2 separate regions of the Homo sapiens genome follow, and region 2 is linked to region 1. A link means that fine-mapping ties the variant in region 1 to the expression of a gene that starts in the linked region. Tissue or cell type: cerebellum. Region 1 holds a variant in brackets; the other region holds the start of a gene. All regions are shown on one strand. Distances are between the middles of the regions.

The links.
Region 2: LIRIL2R starts here. The variant in region 1 is fine-mapped to the expression of LIRIL2R in cerebellum (GTEx, PIP above 0.99). The same link has a PIP of 0.9 or more in caudate, cerebellar hemisphere, cerebral cortex, hypothalamus, nucleus accumbens and putamen.

Annotation. Positions count from the first base shown.
Region 1 is chr6:151,947-154,860 of GRCh38, reverse strand. No RefSeq gene overlaps it. Among named protein-coding and RNA genes, the nearest start is that of LIRIL2R, 27 kb to the left of the region's middle. The variant C/T (reference allele first, on the strand shown) is at 1,126.
Region 2 is chr6:179,247-182,160 of GRCh38, reverse strand. LIRIL2R (lincRNA regulator of IL2RA) reads right to left here and starts at 1,766. Exons shown (of 2, transcript XR_926349.3): 1 at 1-1,766. It overlaps LINC03066 (long intergenic non-protein coding RNA 3066), which reads left to right. Exons shown (of 8, transcript NR_126020.1): 8 at 466-695.

The DNA.
Region 1 (2,914 bases):
TTCTCATTACTCACACAACAAAATTTAGCTGAGGGAGATTGAGTGACTTTCCCAGGGTCGCACAGTTACTAAGAGCAGAGCCGTGTTTAGATTCATGTGGGAATACTGAACGCTGAAATGAACGAGCAGAAATATCCTACGTTCCAAAAGCCTACTCAAGCCATTTGTTCTTAAGGAAAATCTTTATGCTAATTTTAAGCTCCAAATACTTATGAATGGCAGAGATCTACAGATTTCATTCTGATGTAAGAGATGATGCTCACCAGCTGGTTACTGCTACCACCCCACAACCCCGAGCATACTGGACAAATCTCTAAGCCTCGTTGTTAGTGCAGACAATGCTGGTGGAGTCTGAAGTTGTCATGCAGTGACTCACTCAAGCTTAGGCAGATTTGATGATATATGACACAGAGATGCAAAGAAATGCTGTAGCTGACACACAGAGGCTGGCTCTGGGAGATGCAGAAGGAGCATGTCACCCAAAATAAAGCCAGACAGACATCCTTAAGGAAGGAGCAAAGGGGCTGCATCTTAAAGAATGAAGAAGAGATTTGTCATGAGAGATGGGACAGGAAGTTCTTGAGAGGCAGAGGGAGAGCATGAGAATGTCGGGAAGGGAGGAGAGATTCTTGCACATCTGGGAAGCTGACAATCCATCGGCATTGTCAGAAGGAAAATAAGGAGGAGGAGTGGAAATAATAAAAGCAGGGCTGTGTGTTGATTGTGGTAAAGAGTTGTGATTCTATCCAGAAGGCAATAGGTAGCATTCTAAAGAGAGATCTTCTAAAACAAGAGTCAGCAAATATTTTCTGCAAAGGGCTAAATGTTAAATATTTCAAGTTTTCCAAGCCATGTTGTCCCTCTCTCAATGACTCAGCTCTTCCATTATACCATGAAAGTAGCCAGAGACATTGTATAACACATGTATGTGGCTGTGTCCCATTACAACTTTACTTACAAACGCAGACTGTGTCAGACCTGGCCCATGCATGGTAGTTTGCCACACCCTGTTTTAGAAAGCTCAGGTTTATGATGTGATGGAGAATGCCTACAAGAGCTCTTGTTTTAAATGGTAGAGTGAACATACACTGGAATTCTATCCTGCTTGACCCAAGCTCTTGATAG[C/T]GAAAGGTAGAAAAGATAGATGGTAAATAGATAGATAGATGATAGATAAAGAAAATACATAGCTGTTCCAGAAAACAGAAATGGATAACTTCATGAACCAAAAGCAGAGTAATATACTTTAGAAAGGGAGCAGGCTGGAAAACTCACAGTTGCAAAGCAAATAGAATTTCCAACTGCCTCTTGTAGCCCCTTCCTGGAAGTAGTCACAACCCAGGGTGTTTCGACTTCTTCCCCTGTTTTTTGTTTGTTTGCTGTTTGCTTTTTTGTGGGTTTTTGTTGTTGTTGTTTGCTTTTTTAAAAAAAATTCCCTTTCCCTGCTTTTTTGTCACAGCAGTCTTTGTCACTTCAAACACCACAAGTTTTCTTTTTCAAAAAATTATATCAACCTTTCAATTAAAATGCAACATGTCTGAAACTTGATATCTAGAGAGGTGATATGGACAAAGGAGCCCTTGTTACTGCACGTTTCTGTTCTCCAGACTTCACCTTGCACACAAGAACAGACAATGCACAAAACCACTTCCTTATGGACTGAAATTCTGAAATCCTTTTATGACTGGCGTTTCCTAACCCTTCAACTTCCCCTCTCCCATGCTGTGAATGATTGTATTGGACATTTTTGTTTTAATCTCAGTGACAGGGGAACACAGGTAGCTCTAATATAGCTGTGACCCAGATGCTTCTGTTTCTACCATGTATTTATTTTGTAGCAAACATTTACATCCATCGTTTTTCACTGTCTTTTGAAAATAATTAGGGAATATCTCATCTGAGGTAGGATGTTTCTAGTGGTTGTGTTCTGAAGGAGGAAAAACTAATCTGTTCTCTTTCCACTGCATTCCAGGAACAGTGAGAGGACCTTGTGCATGAATAATTTGTTTCCACACTACAGAGTGGGTAATAAGCAGATTAGTAAAAACAATTCTGCTTCACTTCAATAACAGCCTCCTCCAACTCATTTTTTCTCAACAAACTTATTTTTCCAGCAGAATAATCCCAGACTTCTTAAGAGAACCCAGTGACTTTTCGCACCTTAAATCTGTGAAATCCTGTTTTCTTACGCCATATGCATAGTTCAAACATACAAAGATGATGCAAAGCCAGACGCATTCCTGAAGGAGCCTAAGAAATTCCTCTCTTTCTGTCTCTGGAATGAAATGAATTCTCTAGACCATCAGTTCTAACCTTCAGAAACCAAACCTGTTTGTGAGATCTCCTTCAAATGCTACTGTAGACTCCAGTGTTTATTCATTAAATTTTTAAAGTATTTGTTTTATTTGGAATCAGTTTATTTGTAATTTTAGTATTTGTATTAATACAAGGGAGAAATGTTTAAGTCTGTCTATGCCATATATGCCTCTGGCTTATTGCCCAATTAATTGTAGCCTCAGGCTAAACTTTGGTTTCTGTTTTTATTTTTTTCAGGACAAATATAACTGATCTCAAAACATCTGCTTTTATTGTAGGGGCTTGTGCTGCCATCTCCATTCCTCTCTCTTTTCTTGCAATCTGGGTGGAAGTTCTTTAATATGAACATTTCAACCACCTTCATTCTACCATGTCCACTATCAGCACATTCAAGCTTATCCAGCCAAGGCTGTCATCTTAGGCCAGGGATTTTTTAGGAATCTATTTTGCTGTGATGCAGCTGGTACCCCTTTGATTCACTTTATCACTCCAGGGTTTTTTTTCATTTTAGGAGCCCAAGAAGGCAGAAAAAGAAGTAGGTGAGCAATTAAACCCTCTGAGTAGGAGCGTCTCCCCTTGCGTTAAACAATGTTGTAGAACA
Region 2 (2,914 bases), 27 kb before region 1:
TAGTAGAGATGGGGTTTTCTCCATGTTGGTCAGGCTGGTCTTGAACTCCCAACCTCAGGTGATCTGCCTGCCTCGGCCTCACAAAGTGCTGGGATTACAGGTGTGAGCCAACGCGCCAGGCCGAAAATATTTTATAATAAAGTGACTGTTGTAGATCAACTTTATAATACAATGCGGATTCTCAATTCTTATAACAAAGACTAATGTACATAAATTTCAGTATGTTTTAAAATTAGCCAGTACTTAGTAGAAAGCCCATATAGTTTACTGTAGCACTTCTGCACTTATAGTTTAGGTCTATCTAGATGTATGACTTCTCAGATGCTGCCGAATATTGACCTTTTGCATGGTATTCAGTCTTTGAATTTTTATTTCATAATATGCTGGAACCACGATATTCTATCTGATCAGCAACTGGTCTGGTATCTGGGGCTCATAATTTTCTTTTTCCGCTTCATATTTCAGACAATTGAGGACGACTATAATAGTTTCTCATTAGAAATACATGCTAATAAACATCATGTCTTTGGTATTAAGTGGCAATTAGATGAAACAACCTGAAATTCTGTCTGATACCAAGATTGAACTTTGCTGAGATTACTGTTTCACTCACCGAAAATATCAGAATACTCAAGGGAGTTATTTTTTTTCTTAATGTAACTTTCATAAAGGAAATGAAAGAAATGTGGAGACTGAAAACAGTTGTCTGGTGTCTCAATACTGCATGCAGGTTCAACTACATTCTAAGCAAGTTGACTGTTATAATACATTTCACATTTTCTGTGATTTTGTTTGTGCTGAGACCTTATGCAATTACAAAGCAGATTTTTTACACTAACCTACACTGAGAAAAGAAAACCACCGTTCCCCTTTTAAACAGGAGAGTGCCTCAAGTACACTCGGGATCCCTCTCACCAAGCACAGCAAGGCTTGTGACTTCAAGCACACCAAGCTTGTGACTTTTTCTCCTACAAGGTGCACCTCGTTTTTTCTTACTGACAAATTGGCTTTAAAGTAAAGTTAGTTCCCTATCACACTGGCCCCCAAGACTCCAACTCCTGCTTCTCTTGGGATCTCTGCCCAGAGTCCAATCTCCCCTAAGGCGTGGTGCAGTGCTGTGCCCACACCTAGGCTCTGGGGGTGGGCACCCTTTGACTTTCCTCATATCATTCCACCCTCGACACATCCAAATGTGAACACATCTTCTCCACAAAGTGCCCCTTCACCACGCCAGTTCCCAGACACTTTATTTCTTCCCTTGCCTAGAGTGCTGCCCCCAAAACCAGCCCCCCATCATTGGCCATGTCCTTGCAGAGGCTGAACCATCCCACAATCTGTCAAGGATATCAGGGAAGAGCATGAGCTGGATAGACTTCAGGCTCTGCCAGCAGCTACATTCTAGGGGTGCCCGGACGTCCTGGTCTCTTGAGATGAGATGGTCTTGTGTCTGGAATTGGTCTCACTGACTAAAAGAATAAAGCCGCAGACCTTCACAGTGAGTGTGACAGTTTTTAAAGATGGTGTGTCTGGAGCTAGTTCCTTCAGATGTTTGGACGTGTTCAGTTTCTTTCTGCTGGTGGGTTTGTGGTCTCGCTTGCTTCAGGAGTGGCTGCAGACCTTTGTAGTGAGTGTCACGAGCTCTTAAGGTGGTGCGCCTGGAGTTTCTCATTCCTCCCAGTGGGTTTGCCATCTCACTGCCTTTAAGGAGGGAAGCTGCAAAGCTTCGCGCAGTACGACAGTTTCCAAACATGATGCAAGCACAGCTTACCACGGTTGCCTCCGCAGCCCGCTTTTATTCCCTTATCTGACCCCACCCACATCCTGCTGATTGGCCCATTTTACAGAGAGCTGATTGGTCCGTTTTGACAGGGTGCTGATTGGTGCATTTAGGAATCTTGAGCTAGACACAGAGTGCTGATTGGTGCATTTACAATCCTTTAGCTAGACACAAAAGTTCTCCAAGTCCCCACTAGATTAGACACAGAGCACTGATTGGTGCGTTTACAAACCTTTAGCTAGACACAGAGTGCTGATTGGTGTTATAATCCTGTAGCTAGACATAAAAGTTCTCCAAGTCCCCACCAGACTCAGGAGCCCAGCTGGCTTTGCCTAGTGGATCCTGCGCTGGGGCCGTGGGCAGAGTTGCCCGCCAGTCCCACACTGCACACCCACACCACGCACCAGCACTCCTCAGCCCTTAAGCATCGATAGGACTGTGTGCTGTGGAGCAGGGGGCGGCACCCCTTGGGCAGGCTCAGGCTGCTCAGAAACCCACGGCGGCTGGGGGGAGGCTCAGGCATGGTGGGCTGCAGGTCCCGAGCCCTGCCCCGTGGGGAGGCAGCTAAGGCCCAGTGAGAAATTGAGCGCAGCACCGGTGGGCCGGCACTGCTCGGGGAGCCAGAGCACCCTCCACAGCTGCTGGCCCGGGTGCTAAGCCCCTCACTGTCTGGGGCTGGTGGGGCCGGCCAGCCAGCTCTGAGTGTGGGGCCCACCAAGCCCACGCCCACCCGCCAAGCCCACGCCCACCCGGAACTCTAGCTAGATCACAAGTGCCATGCGCAGCCCCAGTTCCTGCCCCTGCCTCTCCCTCCACACCTCCCCGCAAGCTGAGGGAGCCGGCTCCTGCCTCGGCCAGCCCAGAGAAGGGCTCCCACGGTGCAGCGCTGGGCTGACGGGCTGCTCAAGCACAGCCAGAATGGGCGCCGAGGCCGAGGAGGCACCGAGAGCGAGTGAGGGCTGCCAGCACTCTGTCACCTCTCACTACCGCACTCTGTCCTACCCTCCCATGCCCCTCCAGCACCCTGATCCTACCTGCACCCCGCTCCTACTGAGAGGTGAAGCCCGGCTGGGCTTCTGGGTTGGGTGGGGACTTGGAGAACTTTTCCCTCTAGCCAAATGTTTGTAAATGCACCAA